Linked DNA regions of Homo sapiens. The protein of the gene in region 1 interacts with the protein of each later gene in a pairwise test. Each region holds a gene or a part of one and is shown on either strand. Other genes may lie near its edges.

Evidence for each region. The genes of interacting proteins can lie anywhere in the genome.
Region 2: the proteins of POP5 (region 1) and POP1 interact in binary tests that used the Homo sapiens proteins (3 or more experiments, as listed by UniProt).
Region 3: the proteins of POP5 (region 1) and DCDC2 interact in binary tests that used the Homo sapiens proteins (3 or more experiments, as listed by UniProt).

What each region holds. Positions count from the first base shown.
Region 1 is NC_000012.12:120,577,670-120,586,122, forward strand, and holds POP5 (ribonuclease P/MRP protein subunit POP5), read right to left. Parts: upstream 3,734-8,453; 5' UTR 3,694-3,733; coding exon 3,674-3,693; intron 3,589-3,673; coding exon 3,446-3,588; intron 2,255-3,445; coding exon 2,105-2,254; intron 1,983-2,104; coding exon of another isoform or gene 1,929-1,982; coding exon 1,845-1,928; intron 1,744-1,844; coding exon 1,649-1,743; 3' UTR 1,095-1,648; downstream 1-1,094. UniProt on the Homo sapiens protein: Component of ribonuclease P, a protein complex that generates mature tRNA molecules by cleaving their 5'-ends. Also a component of the MRP ribonuclease complex, which cleaves pre-rRNA sequences.
Region 2 is NC_000008.11:98,133,865-98,141,849, reverse strand, and holds part of POP1 (ribonucleases P/MRP protein subunit POP1), read right to left. Parts: intron 7,902-7,985; coding exon 7,814-7,901; intron 7,379-7,813; coding exon 7,191-7,378; intron 5,369-7,190; coding exon 5,112-5,368; intron 4,990-5,111; coding exon 4,896-4,989; intron 1,773-4,895; coding exon 1,661-1,772; intron 1,082-1,660; coding exon 962-1,081; intron 654-961; coding exon of another isoform or gene 646-653; exon of another isoform or gene 585-645; intron 1-584. UniProt on the Homo sapiens protein: Component of ribonuclease P, a ribonucleoprotein complex that generates mature tRNA molecules by cleaving their 5'-ends. Also a component of the MRP ribonuclease complex, which cleaves pre-rRNA sequences.
Region 3 is NC_000006.12:24,347,503-24,355,487, forward strand, and holds part of DCDC2 (doublecortin domain-containing protein 2), read right to left. Parts: intron 6,122-7,985; coding exon 6,067-6,121; intron 1-6,066. UniProt on the Homo sapiens protein: Protein that plays a role in the inhibition of canonical Wnt signaling pathway. May be involved in neuronal migration during development of the cerebral neocortex. Involved in the control of ciliogenesis and ciliary length.

The DNA.
Region 1 (8,453 bases):
ATGATATTGTAGGCTGTCTTTTCTGGTGTCAGGTTTAAATGGTTCTAGAGCTGGGCTTAGCTTTAACCTGCCATTTTAAAAGAAATCCTATCAGGAAATTTCCTGGATGGATGAGGGTGTTCTGGCCTCCAGATGAGGGGGCATGTTGAAGCCAGAATCACCAGTGTTTCTGTTAAATGTGTATGGTACTTTCAGTCTCATCCATTGTATTATGGAGAAAACAGATCCCAGAAATGTCAGTAGGTAGCAGATCAAACCTGGATCACAAGTCTCCCGCCATTCCTACTTCCTGTGAGTATGGCAGTCTGACTTGTCTTCAGGGCGCCTTGTATTCAGGCGCAATAAGAGCGGAACTACAAAAACTACCTTAAGTTCCTTAAGTGGACAGCTGCTACATGACCATGCAGTAATGATGTCAGATGAGGCCAGCACCCGCGCCCCCCCCAACTGCAAAGGTTGCATTTTTTGTTTGAGACAGAGTCTCGCTCTAGCCCAGGCTGCAGTACAGTAGTGGGATCTCAGCTCACTGCAAGCTCTGCCTCCCGGGTTCACGCCATTCTCCTGCCTCAGCCTCCTGAGTACCTGAGATTACAGGCACCCACCACCATGCCCAGCTAATTTTTTGTATTTTTAGTGGAGACAGGGTTTCACTGCGTTAGACGGGATGGTCTTGATCTCCTGACCTTGTGATCTGGCCGCCTCAGCCTCCCAAAGTGCTGGGATTACAGGTGTGAGCCACTGCGCCCGGCCCAAAGTTGTATTTTTTAAGTTACCTGATTAACTATTGGCAAGGAATCTGGTATCTGTAAGACCCTGTGGTTCAGTACTGAGATGGGCTGTAGATCTCTGCCAGTTCAGTTGCTGTGTCTCAACTAATATTTCTATTCCAAATGACTTGGCTTGCTTAGGGCCCATCATGGGGCCGGGGGTACAAAGCTTCAGGTAGAAGGCTAAGTATTGAAAATTTAGGCCAGGCACAGTGGCTCACCCTTTAATCCCAGCACTTTTGGAGGCCAAGGTAGGCCGATCACTTGAGGCCAGGAGTTCAACAGCAGCCTGGCCAACATGGCAAAACCCCGTCTCTACTAAAAATACAAAAATTAGCCAGACGTGGTGGTGCACGTCTGTAATCCCAGTTACTTGGAAGGCTGAGGTGGGAGAATTGCTTGAACCCAGGAGGCGGAGGTTGCAGTGAGCCGATACTGGGCCACTACACTCCAGCCTGGGTGATAGACTGAGACTGTCTCAAAAAAAAAAGTTTAACTAGTACCACATAGGGAGTCAGTCTTCCCACCAAGGCTAGGGATAGAGAGAGAACAGAGACTTGGCCAAGCATGGACTCCATAAGCCCTTTCTGTAATATAAGTATGCTAAATGCCACGGAAACCAGATACATTTATTAAATCTACTCTTAGCCAAGCAATAAAGATGTCTACAGAGTTCACAACCTGCAACACTTCACCAGGGAATGCTAGGTAAAGGCAACTTCAGTTTAACTGAGTACTCCATTTCAAGTGGGTAATGTCTGCTGGTTGGCAGCTATCCAGTTTGGAAAACTGTGGAAGATGCTGTTGCTACCCAGATTGTTCTGTTCAACAAGTGGGCCTGAAGCCTGAGCAGTGTAGCCAGCTGTGTGGGGAGCAGAGGTTCACTCCATTGCTTCTGCAGCCTCCTCACCTGACTCCTCCTCCTCCTCTAATAAGCAGCTTCTTGTCACAGACTTCTGGATAGCTTCCCGCTCTCCTGGAGAAGGCAGATAACAGGGATGAAAGATATCTTTGGGAGTGATTTCTTCAGCTTAAGGTCAGTCACTGCTCAGTGGGCACTGGGCTAGTGTTGCTTACCTTCATCAGTGCAGTTCTGCAACAAGATCAACAGCTGTCTCCTGTTGTACTGAATTAGGAACTTCTGACATGTTCTTATTGTACCTGGCATATGAGTTACTGTGGTCAACAGCTTGTGAAAGATCTCGACCTTACAGACTTTCAGAGGTAGGGGGAAGTGTCTTGTTAGCGGGACAGCAGCAAGACCCACCCACCAGTTTAGACTGAACTGTGAACGTGTCACCAATTGAAAATCAGTAGCCATACCACCTCACTCCTACCTCCCACATGTAATGTGTTGAAAAAGCATGGGTAACGGTGTCCTTTGTTCTCCAAGTATGTGATGAAGGGAAGAGCTGACCACACAAGCTGATAGAATTCTTTTCTGCATCGAAGTAGCACTATTCCAGTATAGGCATTGAGATATCGAACTACAACAGGAAAGAAAAATCATTTTGGAAAACTTTTGCTCTGTGTGGTGGCTCACGCCTGTAATCCCAGCACTTTGGGAGGCTGAGGCGGGCAGATCACTTTAAGTCAGGAGTTCGAGGCCAGCCTGGCCAACATGATGAAACCCCGTCTCTACTAAAAATACAAAAATTAGCTGGGTGTGGTGGTGCGCACCTGTAATTCCAGCCACTCAGGAGGCTGAGGCATGAGAATCGCCTGAACCCAGGAGGCAGAGGCAGCAATGACCCCCGATCTCGCTGCTGCACTCCAGCAGCCTGGGCAACAGCCAGACTGTCTCGAAAAAAGGAAAACTTTGGAGTAACAGAGCCTACTATGTGCCAAAAGTATGTTGTAGGCAAGTGGCACGTAGATCTATCAGCGAGTAAAAGAGAAAAGCCAAAACACCCACTGTGTTGCACACCACTCAGAACTGGTGAATGAATTTAGAATTGAAAATGCTTTCTAATTCACTAGTTAATTCAATAAATAGGAGCAGGTAGGAGGCGATCCGTTTTAATTTAGGAAAAACCCCCACAAAACCCTTGCCTGAAAAACAGGCTGTTTTACTGCATTTGGGCTCCGTAATTATTGTAGCAGTCAGCTCTCAGTCTCACCTGACTTAGGAGAGTTAAGTCTATCTGCATTTAACTCTCCAGAAGTCAATCTCAAACAAGGTTAAAGTGGGAACTAATTTAAGTGGTGTGAAAGAAGGGCCCCTCTGTCCTAGCTCATCCTGTATTTACATATATTGACAATCATGTGTTCTGTACTTTACCAACTATTTAAGGGCTTTCCCGGAGTACTTTTGACAATTTTTTTCCATATGATGTTAATGTAATCGGTCATATAATAGCTCTTACTAGGAAGTATACACAGCTTCCCTCATTTAATTCTCTACCCTATCAAATTCAATCACAACCAATTACAGAAATTACCTGTCAAGCAGGTAAAAAGAGGCTTCTAGCTCAAAGCCCCACTGCCTTCGGGCCCCTCCTTTTAGCGCTCTGCTAATTTCGGACTCTCGCTTGGGGTCCCAGGCGCTTAAAGAGATACCTTACAAAAAACGGTGCACGGGCTTGGCCACTCGTGCCCCTTCTTTCTTCCTCCGGCGCCTGCCCCCTCCACATCCCGCCATCCTCCCGGGTTCCCCTCTTCCCCCAGCGCCCTTGCACCCGCGAAGCCGATGGAGCAGGCGGCTGCGCCGAAAGTTCCGTGCACCCTGGCGATCGTGTCCCGTACGAGGCTGCTCAGAACTCGGTCATCGAGGCTTAGGCGGCAGCGGGGGTCGTCAGACACCAGTTCGCAGAGCAGGTACCTGCGGCAGGCGAGAGGAAGGTGGACACTAGCGGGGCCGCGAGGACCCAGCAAGGCACTGGGAGGGTCTGGAAGGGAATGCTTACCTGTGCTTGAACCGCACCATGGCTGCCTCCGCGCTCTCCGGTCCGGCGTGCAAACCGGATGTGAATTCTGTCCGCTGCCAATGGGAAGCTTGCTTCCGCAGCCTTTCAGCCATTCAGAGAAGGAGACAGGATATTAGGGCGGAGCTAGAAAGTTGAGAGGCCGAAGTCTGTCAGCTCTCTCAAGCCCCGCCCAACTGCGTTTGTAAGCGCGCATGCGTCCTGCGGAGGGTCACTGACTAGTTTGAGGGCTGAACCCCGGGATGGAGCGCCTTGCAGCTGTAATGGATGGTTCTGTTGCACACTGAAGTTTACAATAGTGTGTAGGATGTAGCCGCTACCCTTGGGGCCCTGGGAACCTTGCACCACAGTTATGTATGCGAGTATATTCTCTCCCCAAGGTGAACGGTGGAGCTTTTGAGGGCAAGACCCTGCACCTCACAGCCCAGGCATTGACAAACGGGAAATCGGACTTTTATTTTCAGGTTTGAGCTCAGTTTAATTCTTCCATACAGCTAAATATGCTATTGCTGTTTGGGCCTTTCAGCAATCTTAGGGAGGCGAGTGTGCCGTCTCGTTTTTTGCTCGCAGAAACAATACGTGGTCATTGTATTTTCCATTTCCGTTTACCTTTTTTTTTTGACAGAAAAGCACAAAGAAGCAAATAAATTATAATCCCAGCACTGAGAGAGAATAACTGTTGTCGTGTAGTGTGTTTTCTTCTGTCATTTTCTCCCTGCGCCAGTGGTTCTCAAAGTGCCGTCTGGGGACCACTGAGATTTCCTAAATTCACTCGATTTGGGAGTCCCCGAAGTCAAAATTACTTTCATAATAATGCTAAGATGTTACTTGTCTTTTTCATTCTCTCTGAGTGAACAGTCAAGTTTTCCAGAGGCTGCTTGACGTGATGACGTCACTGCTCTAGGAATTGTGTATTGTTTTTTAAACGTTTCTCAACTTTAATGTCCATAGTAAATATAACCCACAAAACTAAAAGCTCTTGGGCACCCTCAGTAACGTGTGTAAAGGGGTCCTGAGACAGAGAAAACAGCTTGAGAACTATGCCCTCTGTTAAATTATGTTTTTTCTTTTATTTTTAAGTATTTTAAAAAAAATGTCTTATGGGGTATTACATAAAGTACATATTCTTAAGTGTATTCATCTCAATGAATTTTTACATATGGATAGACTTCTATAACCACCTCCAAGATTAAAATAAAGAGCATTTCCAGTATCCCAGAAGGTTCCCTGAGCCCTCTTCCAGTCAAATTGCTTACTGCTATCAGCCACTATTACCACTTCTACCCTGCTAGATTAATTTTGCCTGTTCTTAAACTTTATATAAATGCAGCCAGGAGGCTGGCTGCAACCTCTGCCTCCTGAGTTCAAGCGATTCTCCTGCCTCAGCCTCCCGAGTAGCTGGGATTACAGGCACCTGCCACCACGACCAGCTAATTTTTGTATTTATTTATTTAGTTTTTTGAGACGGAGTCTCACTCTGTTGCCCAAGCTGGAGCACGATCTCAGCTCACTGCAACCTCTGCCTCCTGGATTCAGGCGATTCTCCTGCCTCAGCCTCCCAAGTAGCTGGGACTACAGGTGTGTGCCACCACAACTGGCTAATTTTTGTATTTTTAGTAGGGACAGGGTTTCCCCATGTTGGCCAGGCTGGTCTTGAACTCCTGACCTCAGGTGATCCACCCACCTCGGCCTCCCAAAGTGCTGGGATTACAGGCGTGAGCTACCACGCCTGGCCATTTGGCTATATTTTCATGTCAGCTCTTCAGCGACAATACTGTTTTTTAGCTGTGCAGTATTGCATTGTTTGGACGTACCATTGTGAAGTTGGTCAGTATCCCTTTGGTAGACGTTTACATTATTTCTAGATTTTCTTGTTATACCCAATACTTTGATGCATGGCTTTGTAGCTTAGTCTTTATGCCCATCCCTGATTATTTGTAGAAGTGTCTTGGCCTTGGCTGGTCCTGTGAGGTCCGTAATGGGGGCAGCTTTCACAACCTATTTTTGCAAGATCTGGAATGAGTTCTGAATTTTCCCATCTCCCACTCTTCTTGGCCACCTTAAAGGAGGGATGTGGGGGAAGGTAGGGAAGAAAAGAATAGGAAGAGGGAACGCCGTGGCCCTGCCAAGGGACCAGTGACAGTGACGGCACTCCCCACCCAAGAACAACTTTTCACCAGAAAGTGTCTGCGACATCCTCCTTTGGCCAACAGGGGGCGCCAGAGGTCCGCAGTGCGCGGAGAGAGCAAGACACCCCCAACTCCTGAGCGCTCCACCCCTCATAGAAATTTCACTCCTCCCAGCCTTCATTTCAACAGCAATGCTTCGCCCATTTTATAGATGCAGTTGGGGCTCAGACCAAAGCCTCGTATCCAGTTAGGAGCAGGATCAGAATTCGAACCCAAAGCCAGCTGACTCCTTGTTCTGGTCAACACGGTTGGTGCTCTCCCGTGCAGGATTTCACTCGTCCATTTAGTGTAATAAGATGGAGAGACGACAGATGGAGGTTCGATTCGCTACTCCGTCATTTACTGGCCCGGCCAGGTGCTGTCAGGAGGGTTAATTCATGTCTCAGATCTTAGTTTCCTCATCTGTGCAATGGGATAACAATGGTTCCTCCCTCGTGGGTGGATATGAAGTTTAAGCGGGGTCATGTGGACAAAATGCCTGGCACAGCGAGTGCATAGTAAGCCCTTTTTTTGTTTTTGTTTTTTTTGTTTTGTTTGTTTTTTGAGACTGATTTTTAAGACTGTCTTAAAAACAAGAAAAGAAAAAAGAAAATATAGCCAAACAACAGGAATTTTTTGAGACAGTTTTTTGCTCTGTCGCCCAGGCTGGAGTGCAGTGACGCCATGTCGGCTCACTGCAGCCTCTGCCTCCCGGGTTCAAGCAATTCTCCTGCCTCAGCCTCCAGAGTAGCTGGGATTAAGGCGCCTGCCACGACGCCCGGCTAATTTTGTATTTTTAGTAGAGATTTCACCATGTTGGACAGGCTGGTCTCAAACTCCTGACTTCAAGTGATCCGCCCGCCTCGGCCTCCCAAAGTGTTGGGATTACAGGCGTGTGCCACCGCCCTCGGCAAGTAAACGCTGTTCTGAACAAATGATTTACTTTTCCCCCACAGGCACAGCCCCGGGAGGAAGCACATTGGCACGGCCCGCGGCCTCCCAGTCTTGGACCAGGCCCGGCCCCTTCTGGCCCAGGAGGGTGCAGACGCCGGCGGTGGCCGGGCGGGCGGGCTCCCCGCGGTAATTAGCGCGCGCCGGCTCGGGCTGCGCCAGCCGCTAATTATAAGTCTCCTAATGAGGCCGGCGGCTGTTTGCAATCACCCGGGTCCCCGCTGCGCGGCGCGGGAGGCTGCGGGGGAATCCGCCCGCGGAGGCATGGAGGAGGAGCGGCCGTCTTCCCCGGGGCCCGGAGATCCGCTGGACGGCGACGGGGTGTGCCCCGGCCGTGCCCGCCGCCGGAATGCCGGCCGCGAAGGGGCAGCGGCGGGGGCTCACACCCCAACCCCTCCTCGGTTCTCTCCCCAGCCGGGCCGCAGAGCCATTATCCTCCCCAGGTGAGGAAGCCGATGAGGCTCTGAGAGGTGAGCTCACCCAGGTGCGACATCACAACTCACCCAGGTGCACAATAGAGCCCAATCCACGTCTGTCTGACCCCAGCCTGTGCCCTTAGCCGAGTCAGGTATCCCCTGGATCAATGGGGTGGTCACTGTTGTCATTACTGTTAGCATTATTACAGTCGTCCTGGGACTTCTCAGATTCCTTTTTTTTTTTTTTTTTTTTTTTTTGAGATGGAGTCTCCCTCTGCCGCCTAGGCTGGAGTGCAGTGGCGCGATCTCAGCTCACTGCAACCTCTGCCTCCCGGGTTCAAGCGATTCTTCTGGCTCAGCCTCCCCAGTAGCTGGGACTACGGGCACGTGCCACCTCGCCTGGCTAATTTTTTATATTTTTAGTAGAGACAGGGTTTTACCGTGTTAGCCAGGATGCTCTCCATCTCCTGACCTCGTGATCCACCCACCTTGGCCTCCCAAAGTGCTAGGATTACAGGCGTGAGCCACCGCGACCGGCCTTTTTTTTTTTTTTTTCTGAGACAGGATCTCACTCTGTCCCACAGGCTTGAGGGCAGTAGCTCCATCTTGGCTCACCGCAACCTCTGCCTCCTAGGTTCAAGCGATTCTCCTGCCTCAGCCTCCTGAGTAGCTGGGACTACAGGTGCCCACCACTATACCTGGCTATTTTTTGTATTTTTAGCAGAGATGGGGTTTTGCCATGTTGGCCGGGCTGGTCTCGAACTCCTGGCCTCATGTGATCTGCCTGTCTGGGCCTCCCAAAGTGCTGGGATTACAGGTGTGAGCCACCGTGTCCAGCCGGGATCACTGTCTTTATTCTTCATCCGTGTCTCCTGGGTGATCATTAATTGGGCTCTCCCAGTGTGCTGGCCACTGTCTTTTCTGGGTTTGATTGATTGAGTCCTCACATCAGCCTCATGAAGTTAGGACCCATTATCCTCTGAGACACAGGGAGGAAAATGGCTTGCCCAAGTTGACACAGTAAATTTGGGTGGACATCTGTCTTACCCTAAAACCTGTGCTCTTAACCCCTTGCTCTCTACTCTGTATTCGGGGACCTAGAAAGATGCTGAGGAAGGAGAGCGCAACTGGGGTACCATTCTGAGGTGACTTTGGCATCCGAGGGGTTTCTGTCAGAGCCCAGATGCTGCTGTTGTGGATGGTGGCAAAGGGAAACTGTATCTGCTC
Region 2 (7,985 bases), on another chromosome or scaffold:
ATGCCTGTAATCCCAGCACTTTGGGAGGCTGAAGTGGGTGGATCACCTGAGGTCAGGAGTTTGAGATCAGCCTGGCCAACATGGTGAAACCCCATCTCTACCAAAAATACAAAAAAAAAAAAAAAAAAATTAGCCAGGCGTTGTGGTGGATGCCTGTAATTTCAGCTACTCAGGAGGCTGAGGCAGGCAAATCACTTGAACCCAGGAGGTGGAGGTTGCAGTGATGACGCCATCCATTGCACTCCAGCCTGGGTGACAAAAGCGAGATTCCATCTCAAAAAAAAAAAAATTCTGAAGTCGTTACAACACAAACCTTTACTTTATCTCCAAAGACTCACATGGTAATTTTAATTATTCTTCCAATTAATCATGTTTAAATGACAGTAAATACAATGAGACATTATCAAAATTGCTGCCAATCTCATATCAGAACAAAATTTTAGCCAGCCCCTTACCCACCTCCTGTGCCACCCCAGCCAAACAACTTTCTCAGGCCTCTAGTACTACTTAGTCTAAACCAAGACATCTTATACTTCAGCACCTGGGATGGCCTTGCCAGGATTCGAACCTGGATCATCTGTATGGTCAGACAGAGGCTTCCACTGAGCACAAGACCAGCTTCGGGTGCAGATCCCTTCCTCACAATTAAAATTCTGAAACGCCAGACATTTTCAGAGAACGTAGTTTGCAGAGAGACAGGTTTTACTAGATACTAAAAAAAGAGAACTCGGAAAATAAAATGAACATAAGTATCAGGCTACGTGTTTTACTGCTAAAAGACACTTCCACACCTACCATTTCCTTAGATCATAATCAGCTTGTAAAGTGGGCAGGTAAGGAGACTGCCCTAATTTTTTACAGATGAAGTTACTGGAGAGGTGTCAGAGAAAGAACTCTTCTTCTAATAAGACTGGACTGCTCGAAATAGTAAGGAAAACCTGGGGTGTTTTTGGAACTTTACCTTGGCATTTTTCTGGATTGGGCAAAGCTTTGGACTTCTTTTGGGGCAAATTTATTCGAGGATCCCCAACTGTCAGTCCCAGAATAGTACCTGCCGGAATTTCTGCTGGTGATGTTATTCCTTTAACAACAACAAAAAGAAGTTTACAGAAAGTCATTCATAATACATCTGTATTTGCTTGTATTTTTAAATCTTTCAGATTTCCTAATGAAACGTTTTTCTTGGACTAATTACTTAAAAACATGTATTCCCTCTCTTCCCATTGATACTTTTAGAGAATAAGTTAACATTCATAAAGAATGAGGTTTCTTGCAAAAAACATGAGGCCAACATAAAAAAAGGTTCTTTTATGAAATGAACACATATGCTTCTATCAGTGATAACTACAGCAGCTATGAGCAAAAATGCAGTTGTGTGCAGGTAAGCATAGAGTTTAGGTCAGTACCTGGTGTATGCATTTATCTCCACTATCAGAATGCCAGTTACTTAGAATATGAACATACCATTTGTTTGTTGTTTCATAACCAGGCATGAATATAGTGTTTATTCACTGAGTTCAGTCCCTCTCTTACTTGGTTCTCTTGCTGTGTCACAATAGCAGCAGGTTAAAAAGCAATACTACATGTTGGAGGCCCAACTGCAAAAGGCTCTTTTGGCCCCCTTCCCTCCCCAACACAACCCAGTCTTCCCTTTGTATACCTCCCAACAACTCGAAAATGGCTTCTTGTCTGCAATGAAGGGAAACGCTGTCAGGTTTCTTACAGGTTTCTATCCACCAGCGGTGAGGTGTCTCCTCTGTGTCCTCTCCCACCTGAAAAATAACAACTACTATTCACTGGACGAACAATGAATCCACCTTCATAATTTTGTCATGGTTGTGATATCAGCCCCCACTCTTTCTTCTTCTATGTGTGGAAATGTATGTGTTATGGGATGAACCAGGGAAGTTGCCACTATACTTAACATAGTAATTAATACCAGACTAACTACCCTTTGAATTAGCAGCAAGGATATAGTATTACACTTCTCTCAAGATTTCACATATGAAGAAAATCATCTATGGTTTTCATAGACTAACTCACTAAGATACTTCACACTCAAAGTCTCTCCAGAGCGCAGTACCAACAAAGGAGGCCTCGCTCCTCTCTCTTTTTTTTCTTGACACAGTCTCACTGTCACTGAGGCTGGAGTGCAGTGGCCTGTCATGGCTCACTGCAGCCTCAATCTCCCAGGCTCAAGTGATCCTCCCACTTCAGCCTTTCAAGTGGCTGGGAGATGGAACCACAGTCACATGCCACCATGCCCAGCTAATTTTTTTTAACTTATTTTTTGTAGATATATGGTCTCACTATGGTGCCCAGGCTGGTCTTGAATTCCTGGGCTGAAGCAATCAACCCACCTCAGCCTCCCAAAGAGCTGGGATTTCAGGTGTGAGCCACACGCCTGGTCCTCTTCCACTAGAGCTAACTTCATCATCTCCAATGTAAGCAATAAAATGTTCCTCACCAAAGGAAAATCAAACCAGTACCTTTTGAAGAACTTTCCAGATAAAAGATATACTACTACTACATTATTCCTAGAAATGTATATTTTTTCCACATGGAACTAGGAATTGAGGAAGATTTCAAAAAGTCCTTCAAGTATCACATGCATGGCAAGAAGGGAATCTATAGCCACAACTCATGCTGAAGTTCACTGAAGTAGGATGTGCACTTACGGATCCTAAAGAAGCAATCATGGCCGGGTGCAGTGGCTCATGCCTGTAATGCCAGCATTTTGGTAGGCCGAGGCAGGCGGGTCACTTGAGGCCAGGAGTTCGAGACCAGCCTGGCCAACATAGTGAAACCGCTACTAAAAATACAAAAAATATTAGCCGGGTGTGTTGGCTGGCACCTGTAATTCCAGCTACTCGGGAGGCTGAGGTATGAGAATTGCTTGAACCTGAGAGGTGGAGGTTGCAGTGAGCTGAGATTGTGCCACTGCACTCCAGCCTGGGTGACAGAGTGAGGCTCTGTCTCAAACAAAAAAAAAAAAAAAAAAAGCAATCATAACAAAGGTACCATTTACTCACAGAAACTCAGGTAGCACAGCTTAGTGGTTTACAGTACAGGCTCTGGAACCAAACTTCATTGGTTCAAATCTTTGCTCCACAACTTATTAGCTACTACGGGGCACCCTCTCTGTGCCAGACATTGTGCTAAGCACTGGGGAGAGAGTGAAAAACAGGACCAACTCTATCCTCACCCTTATGAAGCTCACAGTCTCATGAGAGACATGGACATTACATAAATACACAAATCTATATAAATAAATTGAGGGAATTTGCAAGATGCTCTCTCTGAAAACAACAGGAGGGATCTAGTTTAACTTGGGGGATCAGGAAAGGATGCTAGAGGGAAATGCTAGAGACTGAAATCTGAAGAATGAGGAAGGTTCAGCAAAGTAAAGAGTGGTGGAGGCAGAATGCTCAGTAGTTGGAAGGAAAAAACAGGTGCAAAGGCTCTAAGGGAGACAAGAACTGACATTCCAGAACCTGAAAGAAGGTCAGGGTGGCTGAAGTGTAGAAGGGTGAGGAGAAATGAGGCCTCAGAGGCAAGAAGGCACAAGATTACACGGGTCACATTGAGCACTTTGGATTTTATCTTAATTACAATGAGAAGCTATTCAAAAACTTTTCATCAGGAAGCAACAAGAGGGAATAAATTATCAAAAAATCACTCTGCCTCTTGTGTGGAGAATGGGCTGAAAAGGAGGAAGGATGGAGGAAACTTAAGGTTCCCTCTAGAATCCTTTCCTGATCCCCCAATTGTTCAGGCAAGAGACAACACTGGTTGAGAGTACAGCAGAAGCAGTGAAGATGGAGAAAAGTAGCTTTTGTATTTTAAAGCATCTTTCTTCTAAAAACTCAGAATCTGTTCAGCTCTATCATCGTATTTGACCACGTCAAGTCAGTGAGAGGCACAGGCATTGAAAAGTTAATTGCACTAAGACCAGAAAACGAACAGGATCTGAACCCAGGGTGCAGATTCCTAATCTAGTCTCTATGCTAGCCACTTGCCAATAGAGCTACTCAAATTTAATTTTTAGTTAATTAAAGTTAAGTAAAGGTATAAATTCAGTTCCTCAGTCACTCTAGCCACAATTCAAGTATTCAACTGCCACATGTGGCTAATGGCTGTCGTACTGGACAGCACAAAGGAACATCATCCTCACAGAAAGCTCTACTGGAAGTGCTGCCCTAGACATACTGCTCTTAACCTTTTTAGAGATTCTAGACCCCTAAAACTAGCCCCAGAAAACCAGCCAGGTGCGGTGACTCATGCCTGTAATCCCAGCATTTTGGGAGGCCAAGGTGGGCGGATCACCTGAGGTCAAGAGTTCCAGACCAGCCTGTCCAACATGGTGAAACCCTGTCTCTACTAGCTGGGCCTGGTGGTGTGCACCTATAGTCTCAGCTACTCGGGGGGCTGAGGCAGGAGAATCGCTTGAACCCAGGAGGCAGAGGGTGCAGTGAACCAAGATCGCACCACTGCATTCCAGCCTGGGCAACAGGATGAGACTCAATCTCAGAAAAAAAAAAAGAAAAGAAAACCTACATGGCACACGCACACATCACAAAATCTGGCACACAATTTCAGGGATTTTAGAGACTCCCTACCTATGAAGCAGAAGTTAAGACCCTCTACAAGACTCACAGATGCAAGAGCAGTCTGTATTTAAGTAAGAACAGTCAGTTTACTGATCATATCCACTTAGTTGTGGTCTTCTAGGAGAAGTGAAAGATAACAAAATCTTTGATAATAAGCATAATAAGTAGGGAAATAAACATCTAAAAGCCATGGCCCAAAATGTTACCAAATTATATATTAGGTTTCACAAATTTGACAGGAAAAACATGATTAGAATAAAACACTACAGTCACTTTTACTCTTACAGTGTGGACAGAAGCAGCTTTTATTGCTTCAGTTAGGATGGAGTGGGAAAGTGGCCCAATCAGCCGGAATCTGTTCATCTCCATCGTCAAATCGCTGAAAAAGAAAGAACATCTTAAAATGGAAACTTTCATCACACAACATCTGTGCCACTGACAAAAATGGAGCAGGTCTTCACTGAAAATGTTCAGTAGGTTCAAAGCAAATTCAACTCATACCTGATTATAATGCCTGTGGTTGGAGAGATCCAAGAGTATGGTAGACATGGATCTCTAGTTCCATCACCGATAATTTTTTTAATTGGTTTAGCATTTTCTCCATCATCTTTCCTTTTTCTTTTCTTGCCAATTTTCTCGTCAGGCAATTCAGTTTGGCTTTTTTCTTGGGATGGTGTTGGAAGTGGGTCAGCGATGCAGACAGCTGATTTGATGGGTTCCACACACTGGCACGCTGCTTTTATTTCCTCTAAGATATCCTAAAAATATATTTAAACATTCACTTTAAAATCTTGAAATTTAAATATATTACGACAAATTTAGTTGGGTTTTTTTTTTTAAATCTCTTTAAAAATTAACATTTTTGGCCAGGCACGGTGGCTCATACCTGTAATCCCAGCACTTTGGGAGGCCGAGGTGGGTAGATTACCTGAGATCAGGAGTTCGAGCCCAGCCTGACCAACTGGCAAAACTCCATCTCTACTGAAAAATACAAAAAATAGTTGGGTGGCAGGCACCTATAATCTCAGCTACTCAGGAGGCTAAGGCAGGAGAATCACTTGAACCTGGGAGGCAGAGGTTGCAGTGAGCTGAGATCGTGCCATCGCACTCCAGCCCGGGCAACAGAGCAAGACTCCGTCTCAAAAAAAAATAAAAAATAAAAAATAAAAAAAAATCACATTTGTATTCCCTCACAAATTAACTTAAATTAAATTTATCATCAAAAAGCTTTTTTCGGCCAGGTGTGGTGGCTCACGTCTGTAATCTCAGCACTTTGGGAAGCTGAGGCAGGAGGATGGCTTCAGCCCAGGAGTTTGAGACCATGGCCTGGGCAACATAGGGAGACCTTGTTCCTACACAAAATAAAAAAATAATTAGCTGGACAAGGTGGTGCACCCCTGTAGTCTAAGCTACTCGGGGAGGCTGAGGTAGGAGGATCATTTGAGCCTGGGAAGTAGAGGCTGCAGTGGGCTATGACTGCACCACTGCACTCAAGTCTCAATGACAGAGCAAAACCCTCTGGGAAAAAAAAATTTTTTTTAATTTAATTTTAATTTTTGAAAAAAAGCTTTTTTGGGTGTTCTGAGTAGTGTATGCCACTTTAAACAAAAAAAAATTTTGAAACTGAAAATTTCAAATGGGTTAATTAGGGCTGGGGCTAGGGGTAGGGTTAGTCAAATATTATGAAAACAACATGATCACTCTGACTACATTTTTTTAAAGTAGTGAGTATGCTAAAGAAGGGAAGCTAAGCTAAATTCAGTGTGAAAAATCATTAGAATTACTCAAAAATAGCTTTTCATTATCAAATAGCCCCTAGATACTAGTGAACCACTTCAGTCATGGTAGAAACATTAGTTCAAATTCAACATTTCAAATAATTAGCATAAGGCTGGTTTTTATCTCTACTTCTGCTTATGACTTACTAAAAATATGAGATGTCAAGATTAGTTTTTTTTTTTTTCGAGACAGGGTCTCACTGTCACCCAGGCTGGAGTGCAATAGCACGATTTCATCTCACTGCAACTCTGCCTCCTGGGCTCAAAGTGATCCTCCCGCCTCAGCCTCCCAAGTAGCTGAGACTACAGGTGCATGCCACCAATCCTAGCTAATTTTTGTCTTTTTTGCAGAGACAGGGTTTCACCGTGTTGCCCAGCCTAGTCTCAAACTCTTGGATTCAAGTGATCCAACTGCTTCAGCCTCCCAAAGTGGTGGGATTACAGGCATGAGAAACCATGCCCCGCCCTGACTTCATTATATTTGATAAACAAGTTCCGGGGATATAATGTACAGCATGGGTGGTGATGGATGTGTTATTTGATTGTGGTATACAACATGTATATCAAATCATCATATTATATACTTTGAATATATTTGCTTTTTGTCAATTAGACATTTTTAAATACAAATTTTTAAAGTTTTTTAAAAATTCACTTCATTCAATAATCATAGAGCCCCCCATATACAAATATCAGACTATCAGACAAACCTTTACACTATTTACATTTCTACAGTATTGACTTCCAGCAGTAATTAAAAATGCAGTTTCAGAATGACGGGAGATAACCTGAAGGATTATACCTGTTTAAGGGTTGGATGCAGCCAGATCCACAGCTGCCTGCTCTCAGAAGGGTCACCCGGGGTCCTCTGGGACTTCCAGATAAACGTAACAGGCCCAAGCATTTCTCTGGGATATTTATTCACCCGATAAAGCACAAGGCTCCCTTGGCGCTTTCCAGACAAGCAGTGAACTGCTGCAAACGTCAGCCCTGACATCAACAAAAGCAAAATTCCATAATTCCGGGTGTTGAGACTGCAGTCCTATTTCCTGATAACCACACTGTCATTTACTGTCTGCCTCCATGAGAGGTGAAGTTTTGGTTGTGAGGATTGCTCAGATCAAAGCCTGGCACACAATAAGTTCTCAACAAATATGTGTTAAATGAGTAATGAGAGCTTCAAGTTTCTTTCTGTCAAGTTCACTCCACCAGAAAAATGACTCTATCACTTTACACTTGACAATGTTAGAAATTATTTAAAAGCCAACCCAACTGTTTTTAAGTTAACATTTTCATTGGGAATGATTAGTGTCTCACACACTTTTCTATATGTTTGAATTCCAAAATGCTTACAGTAGACACTTCTTTATGAAATGAATAAATATACATAGACTAAAATAGAACTCAGCTTTAAAACAAGTTTACCTGTGTCTATGTTACACATTCCAGAAAGCGCCTTTAGTATTTCTTCCTCTTTGCCTTTCAACTCCAAACAACAGTAATAGGATAAATCCTGCACAAAGCGGGAGACACAATTAAGTACTTAGGAATTTACACAGGCAAAACTGCTAAGAAGCCAAAAGCCGTATCACAAAAC
Region 3 (7,985 bases), on another chromosome or scaffold:
TACAGTACAACAACTATTTACATAGCATTTACATTGCACTGGGTATTACTAGTAATCTAGAGATGATTTAAAGTATACGGGGGGATGTGCATAGGTTATATGCAAATATGATGACATTTTATATAAAGACTTGAGCGTCCTTGGATTTTGGTGTCCTCAGGGGGTACTGGAAACAATCCCTAGGACTGAGTATACTGAAGGATAACTCTACTTGTTGCATGAATAGCATTCATTCAATATAGCTGCAAATTATCCTACAGGGGCAATAAATGTATCAAACAAAGATTTAACTATAACTAATTTTACCCCTGAAACAAAATCTAAATAGGTGGTGGAAAAAAAGGCTTTTAAATTACTTGAGACGTCCTATCCATCATGCAAAAATCGGAATAACCAGGCATGTGCAAGGCAAATGGACATCTACTTAAATTGGCCCAAAAGGAAGATCAAAACCATGGCAAATTTAAACAATTCCCAGTCTTCAGCGTGGTGGGTACGATACAGGATTAGCAGACCTCCTAGAGACCACAATCTAACAGACAACTCTGATGTATATGTTAAAGCCTAATCAGAAGTCTAACAGGAACAAGCCTGCAGTCTGACAAAATCAGATGTGTGGACTTGGTGTAGCAAGTGCCAGCACTTAAAGAATCCATAAAATGACAGTGACAAAGAGGCAGGAGGGTTTGTAGGTTTGTAGGGTTTGGAATCTCATTGAAGGATTCTGAAGAGCTAAGGGAAACAGAGATCAGTTCTAGATTGGTTTCTGTTTTTAAGGTGAAATTAAAAGAATCAGGGATTAACCAGGGGTTGTATGAGATAAGAGAAGTTTATCCAATAAAGATCTCCGTAAAAGATGGGAATAGCAAAGCAAGTCTGAGAGCATCAGCAGTAAGAAAGCAGTCATCACTCAAAGAAGGGATCCTTGTGGCATTTTACAGCCCTGTGCCACCATGGGAGAAACAATGTTTCCTGTTAATTTTATAGTTGGCTTTAAATGTGTCTATCCTCTAAGCCTGGTTAATAGCAAAGCGACCTTTTCCTCTTTTCCATGCAAGCTGATTTTCACTCTTTCTGCTAGAGACTGATTTTGACTCTTACAGATATAATTATTAAATAATACCCTCTTAATCAAGTTGTAGAAAAAGACTTTCTCAAAACTTTGATCTAAGAGAAGCAGGCTAAAAAACAAAAGGGTCTATTATATTTTAAACCATTTCAAACTGGCTGACCCACAACCCTAATCCAATCTGCACTTCCTCAGTCCTCTGAGCACACCTCTAGCACAGCCACCTGCCACTAGATAATCATAGCTAGTTTACTTCTCTGTCTCTTCTCCTACACGCTGAACTCCCAAAGAGCAAGAGCAGTGAAGTATCCATTTTATGCCTAGTGCCTAGCACAGTTCCCAGCCCATCTAAGTGCTCCAAAGTCAAGCTGCCTGCTCTTCCCCTCTCTATATAACATGTACCAAAGCCCCTTACACAGTAAAACAGATTTGTACTCTAAATATCTATTTAAGAATGTCATTAATTCCACCTTGAATGGTTATGGAAAAAAAAGAATGTCATTATTTGAAGGATGTACTACATGGATGAGACATGAGGTGCAGGAATGAAGAGTGAGATCTACAATGCCAGGTCAAAGCAGAAGGACGCTTCCATTTGAAGGGTCCACAAATGGCTTTGCTGCAACATGATAAAGCCAGAAGCACTTGAACTAAATGGCTCAATGCAAACTATATTTACTAAATCGAATCACTTATGATGTAGTACTAGAGATGCTCATCTGTCTTTTCAGCAAGACTATAAATTCCTGGATGTGAGAGGTCATGCATGTCTTAATCATTTTGCTTACTCTGCCCACTGCATTGTATAGGCATTCAATAACATGGAAGCAGAGAGGACAAGGTAGGAAAACAAGAAGAGAGGAAGCAGAAATCACATTCAGTAAAGCAGAAGGGTAGGGGCAAGAGTAAGTGCTGGTAAAGGCATCACACATGCAGAATCAGAGGTCTCCAACTGCATGAGGACAGAGGACTCCCACAGGCTGCTTAAGGTAAAGAGGAAAGAAAGGAGCTGGTAAATCAACTTAGGACTTAGAAGATATAATGAGATGTGAAACTGGACTGAGAGGTGGGACACGAGGAAGCAAAGAGAGGATTGGGAAGTCATAAATACAAGGAGATGAGTTACCACGGTCAGAAGCTAAGAAAACTGTCTTCATTAAACCACCACTGACACAGGGAAAGTGGGAGGAAAAATGAAAATATAGCTATGCAAAATGACTCAGGAGCACAAAAAGAGTACAAGGGCAATCCAGGAGATCTGTTTATTTAGATATTAGTAAAAGCAGGACCTGGGTGTAGAGAGTCAGGGATAGGCTGCTCTGAGCCCATATGGTGCCCTGACTCTGAGGTGGGTGCAAACAACCACAGAGTCACCTTATTCCTCTTTCTTTTATTCTTCTGTTTCTTTATTCCCCCCCTCCACCCCATTACTTCCTGCTGTGCAAAGTGTTCACCAAATAGGACCCTATGCTTCTTTTGGGTTAGGTCCATTACAGTTCTGCCTTTCCCCAAACCCATCATGAGGCCATAAAGAGGAAGAGGAATAGCATTGGCTGTCCTTAAGTATCTCTTCAAAGATGAGCCTCATGGAACAAGCAAGCAGTGACACAAACCACAAAAGCATTTCCAATGTCAAGGTGACACGCACATTCTAGTTAGCATGACCTGAAGTCAATAAGCAGGTGCCATCTTGTCTAAATTATTAACTACGTAAAAGCAACAAATCGTACCCATGGTCTTGGGTGAGCTGCTCTGGAAAAGGAGAAGGAATAACTCCCAGCACTCACTGAAAGGGTGTCCCAGCCACAGTGGGTAGGACCCAGTGCCACACACTCTGCATGACTCCACTGAAATGCAAAGGTCTTTCCGTATAAAATGTACTCGGAATAATTAGAATTAGTATGTTTTAGGCAACCAGAAAAACTGAATTGTGTATACTGGGGTGGTGGCTTTTATTATGCAGGCCCATCACTGAAAACTCAAAATTACCTTAGATTTGAAGGAAATGCCCCCCATTTTGGTGAGTAAGTTATTTTACTCATCCCTCATAATGACACATTTTTGAATTTTTTTGTGCTACTACGGCACTGAAACTCCCCCTTGAAACAACTCTTAACCCTCCAATTTCATGAAGTATTCATGTTCTAAATCCACTTCAAAAATAATTCTCTATTGATCTCCCTTTATATATCATCATACTCCAAAGAATGCTCATCCTTAATAGCACTTAACAAGATGTGCAATCTTTTCTCAACACATTAATGTTGAAAGGAAATACCCACCTAAGATTTTTAAAGATCTATAATTTTTGTGAAATGCCAGTGTTCTACCAAGTCTGTTCTCAAATTTTGAGCATAGATCATCCTCCAACTTATCAACTTGTTGAACTCCAAAAGTTTGACTATAAATCAGTTGTGGGAAAGAGAAAGGTAGTTTCCCATACTAAAAATCACACAGTATAATTAGGTTCTCAGGGCAGCCTGCAAAACCCTTTTCCACTCGTGCTCTACCTAAAACAGCCGTAAAAATACCATAGAATTCAGAGTCAAAGTGATATTTCCAGAAGAAAAATGCTTTCATAGTTCCCTTTTGAGATGCCAAGAACCCAAAAACCTTTCTTTCTGGCAATGAAAGTAGGGGCTGCCTTTGCTTAAAGCAGACTTCGGAGGGTGAAGGTCATGGTGCGAACTTTGGGGAGGAAGGTATCTCCGGACTGGACATGTGAAGTGAGGGAAGTGAACACACTGCTTGTCCAGACCTGGAGGAAACTTTAGGACAGGAGGGCAGAGTGGGAGAGAGGACTCTAGCGAACAAGTGGGAAAGCTGGGCATGAGTGAGTGGAAGATGCGGGAAAGAGCATGGACAAGCAGTTTCTGAACACCTTTTCCCATCTCCTTTGCATTTCACAATTTCTTCTACTTCTCTCTTTCCATCTCCTTTAGAAGGGTTTATGGGTAAGGACTGAGAAGAAATAAAAGGCCACAGCAGGGCAGCAAGAGGAAAGGAGTAAGTGGGAGGGAGTCACCAGTAGGAAGCAGGATGAAAGAGATGCAGTCTTTCATTTGGAGACAAGGGGTAGGTTTTTCACACGTAAGGTGTGCATCCATAAATAAGGATCTTGTACGTTGGCTCATGTGTAAGTGCAAAATAAAGAGAAACAATGGTTACTGTCCCCAGAGTGGAAGAACAATAAGCAAATTAAATGAACTGGAGTTTCTGTGAATGCTTCTGTTATTAAAAATACTATTTTAAGGCCGGGCTTGGTGGCTCATGCCAGTAATCCCAGCACTTTGGGAGGCCAAGGCGGGCGGATCATGAGGTCAGGAGTTCAAGACCAGCCTGACCAACATGCTGAAACCCCGTCTCTACGAAAAACAAAAAAATTAGCCAGGTGTGGTGGCACGTGCCTGTAATCCCAGCTACTCAGGAGGCTGAGGCAGGAGAATCGCTTGAACCCAGGAGGTGGAGGTTGCAGTGAGCAGAGATCGAGCCACCGCACTCCAGCCTGGGTGACAGAAGGAGACTCTGTCTCAAAAAAAAATTTTTAAGAAAAAAGTATATTCGATAAATCTATTGCACACCTGTTGTCTTTTACTAGGGATAATGTCTTCAGCAAAGACACTGGAATCCAGAGTAAATATACTGTGCTCACATTTTTTGGGAATTCACACATCTCAAATTCTATTGCGGAAGTCCAGGTTTCTTCACCAATTTCATGCAAGGTAGTATACTTTAAACAGGTGTGTATCCTTTCATCAGAATCACATCCAGAACAAATTCACAACACTGCCCTTTATTACTACTCTACTTGAGACAGATATCAACTGGTGGTCATTCTTTAGCTATATCATAAGCACAACCTGAAAATTGTATACCTTTGTCTACTTTAAGCTACAAAGCCTATCACTTTCATGACTAATCAATTTGATGCACTGAAAATACAAGCCAAAATATTAATTATGTTAAATGATGTCTAGGAAGGGTACCTCTTTCTACAGATTATTTGAATAATGAATTTAACCTCATATTCTTCAAATACTGTACAATTAGAATTTTTTTCTTACGCAATATTTTTTCTAGAGGGGCCTATTTGGTCCTATTAGGCACAAACATGATGTGAGAGGAAATGGTGAGTGTTGAGGAGAGTCCCTCTGGGGCTCTGGACTACAAGTGAGAAAAACTACTTTTCCTGTTGGCCATTTCTTCATTGGCAGCACTTACCCATTGGAAGCACTTGTTTATTTGGGGTCTGAATGGGAAGAGTGGCTGTCTGGGCTGGTGAACAGAGGCCTATTCTGGATCTAACTACAATTTTCCCTGTCTCAGGCTGTGGCCCCAACTTTGTTTTTAATCTATTTTTTCATTCACAAACTAAAGAATACATCCTACAGAATACCTAAAACTCCACCAGGGTTTCAGAAGCTACGTGGAATGCGGTATTGTGAATATTTCACAAGCTCCTTTTCCAACCTTCACATAAGCTTTCACGAACTATGCTTAACTCGTACTTCGATAGAAGCTAAAACACAGGTGTTTTCCTGACATCACAAAGTGTCCAACGTGACATCTACTCATCTCCTTTGAAAGCCTCAGGGGCAGTTAGGGTGACCCTGGCTACATCAAACACTGAGTTATCAGAGGCACATTAGGATGAGGATGTAGCTTTGGTAAAGATTTATTTAACAACGCTCAGAATCTTCTCACTTGACAGGGAACCTTCCCATGGATTTCAATCAGAGAACATGTAGCTAGAAAAGAGAAAAATATGTTTTGTCTAATCTTGACATATCCTGCACATCTTAGAACATCTACTCAGTCTTTTCATTTCTGACAATGATTCAAAGAAAGAATTATCTTTGCCTTAAAACATATAATGTTCCATTTCTTTACATTAGAGAACTCATCAAAGTAGAATGCCGTCCAAATCTCTAAGACACACCATAAGAAACAAATGGCACCGTTATTTATTTGAATTTTCAAAATAATATTTGCATTACCTCTGTATTAACAACTTCCATTGGTCTTTTCTTGATTTCTCCTATGTCCAAGTAACTGAGGAAAAAACAAACAAACAATAAGAGTTGCTTTTATAGACTTTAAGTCAGTAATTTATTTTTAAAAATCATAAAAAAATAAAGCAACTCATAGGAAATTCTCAACCTTAAAGCAAAAACAAATAGCTACTAATGAAAAGCAATTACAATAGTAAAAACTGTTTGCAGTGTCACCAACCAGAGCTGACATATGTCTACCCTAAACTTCAAGAGAAGGAAAGTCTTAGAAATACATACATCTATTAGAGAACATTTTTCCCTCTTAATAGTTAGCTGCTTACTATATACACTATATTCTTACAGATTTGATTTTTTAAAAGAGTGGCTTATGTGCAAAGCTGCTTAACTGTTCCATTAAATACAGGCTTTAGGTCAAAGGAAGTACTGATAGCGTGCATTAGGGTAACAACTGGGAAAGGCTGAGAAATTATTGTCTCTATGAGAGCACCTTAATGATACAAAAACACTCACTCATGTGGGATGACTTTGGTAATTGGTTCAGCTAAGAAACAGATGGGTGGACTAGTTAACCTCTGGAGACCCCTATTATTCCATTACTATTTGCTCTAGATACTAACAGTGATCATTCTTTAGCTGTTACATAAGCACAACCTGAAAACTGTATACCTTTGTCAACTTCACGTGTAATATCACTGTGATGTGGTTCCAGTTTTAAATGGTCCCTAAACTGTGCTTCATACATAAAATGTGCTAAATAAACATTTTAATATTAAAAAGTATAAATCTAACATATAATTTATAATGATAGATCAATCCTTTACCCCAACTACTACAATTGCCAACTTGTCCCAAAAAAAGCTTATGTTAGAATTAATTTTGGCTATTGAAATGTTTTTATTGTTGCTGTTTGCCTTTTTGGATAAAATACTTTAGTTAATTCATATCTCTGGAAATTGTCATACAATGCCCCTATATAAAAGTAGTCATATTTTTAAAACAGTGCAAACACTCCGTCTTAGCAATAAAATGGGTCTTTTGTGGACCTGCAGGGGCTGAGTTTTGAAATAATACCAAAATATTCTGTCATGTGCAGGAAAGTGGTTTCAGATCCACAAGATTAATGCTGCAGAGTCAACTTCCAACAATGCACAGGGAAAGTTTTGGGGGAAATACTCTCTAGAATCCTCTGCTGTAAAATAAAGGTTGTGAATGTATGGTCTCACATTTGAAATAAATAAGGGTTTAATAGCTACCTGATGTTTAGTTATCGTTTCAAAAATATTAGAAAAATCTAAGTGAAAGCAATTCAAGCAGCGATTTGATCAGTTCCATTTGAAAAAGATGTTGCTGTCTTTCCCAACATTTAGGGTCTAAATGAAAGCCCACGAATTGTCCTCAATATCGTTTGGGCTTTCTTTTGTTCTGACAGTTTCTCCATTCTTTACATAAACTTATAAGTGCTAAGTTTCAAATATATTCAACATTCAAGTATTCTTGGCTTCTATCATTATAACCGTAGATACTACTTCTTTAACACAAATAAAATAGTCATCTGTCAGCATGGAAACCTAACCATGGACACTGTTATAACAAATTCAGTTTTTTGTGTATGAACTGAAAGCAAAAATAACATGCAAATCTCTTAGAGAGACTTGAGTACACTTTTTTATTTGGTGTGGAACTGTACCTTTTTTTTTTAATCTTGTGAGTTGGTAGGATCAAATAAACAAAAGAACATGAACTATAAAAGTGAGTCTACAATTTTCAGCCGTTCAGAGATTCTGAACCAGACTTTCATTTCCACGAAATTGCTTTAGACGGAAATATTTAATAAAAAATAAAGTATGTAACAAAAGGAACTGGTCATAGAGGTGTCTTATATTTATGTAACACTTTGGTGT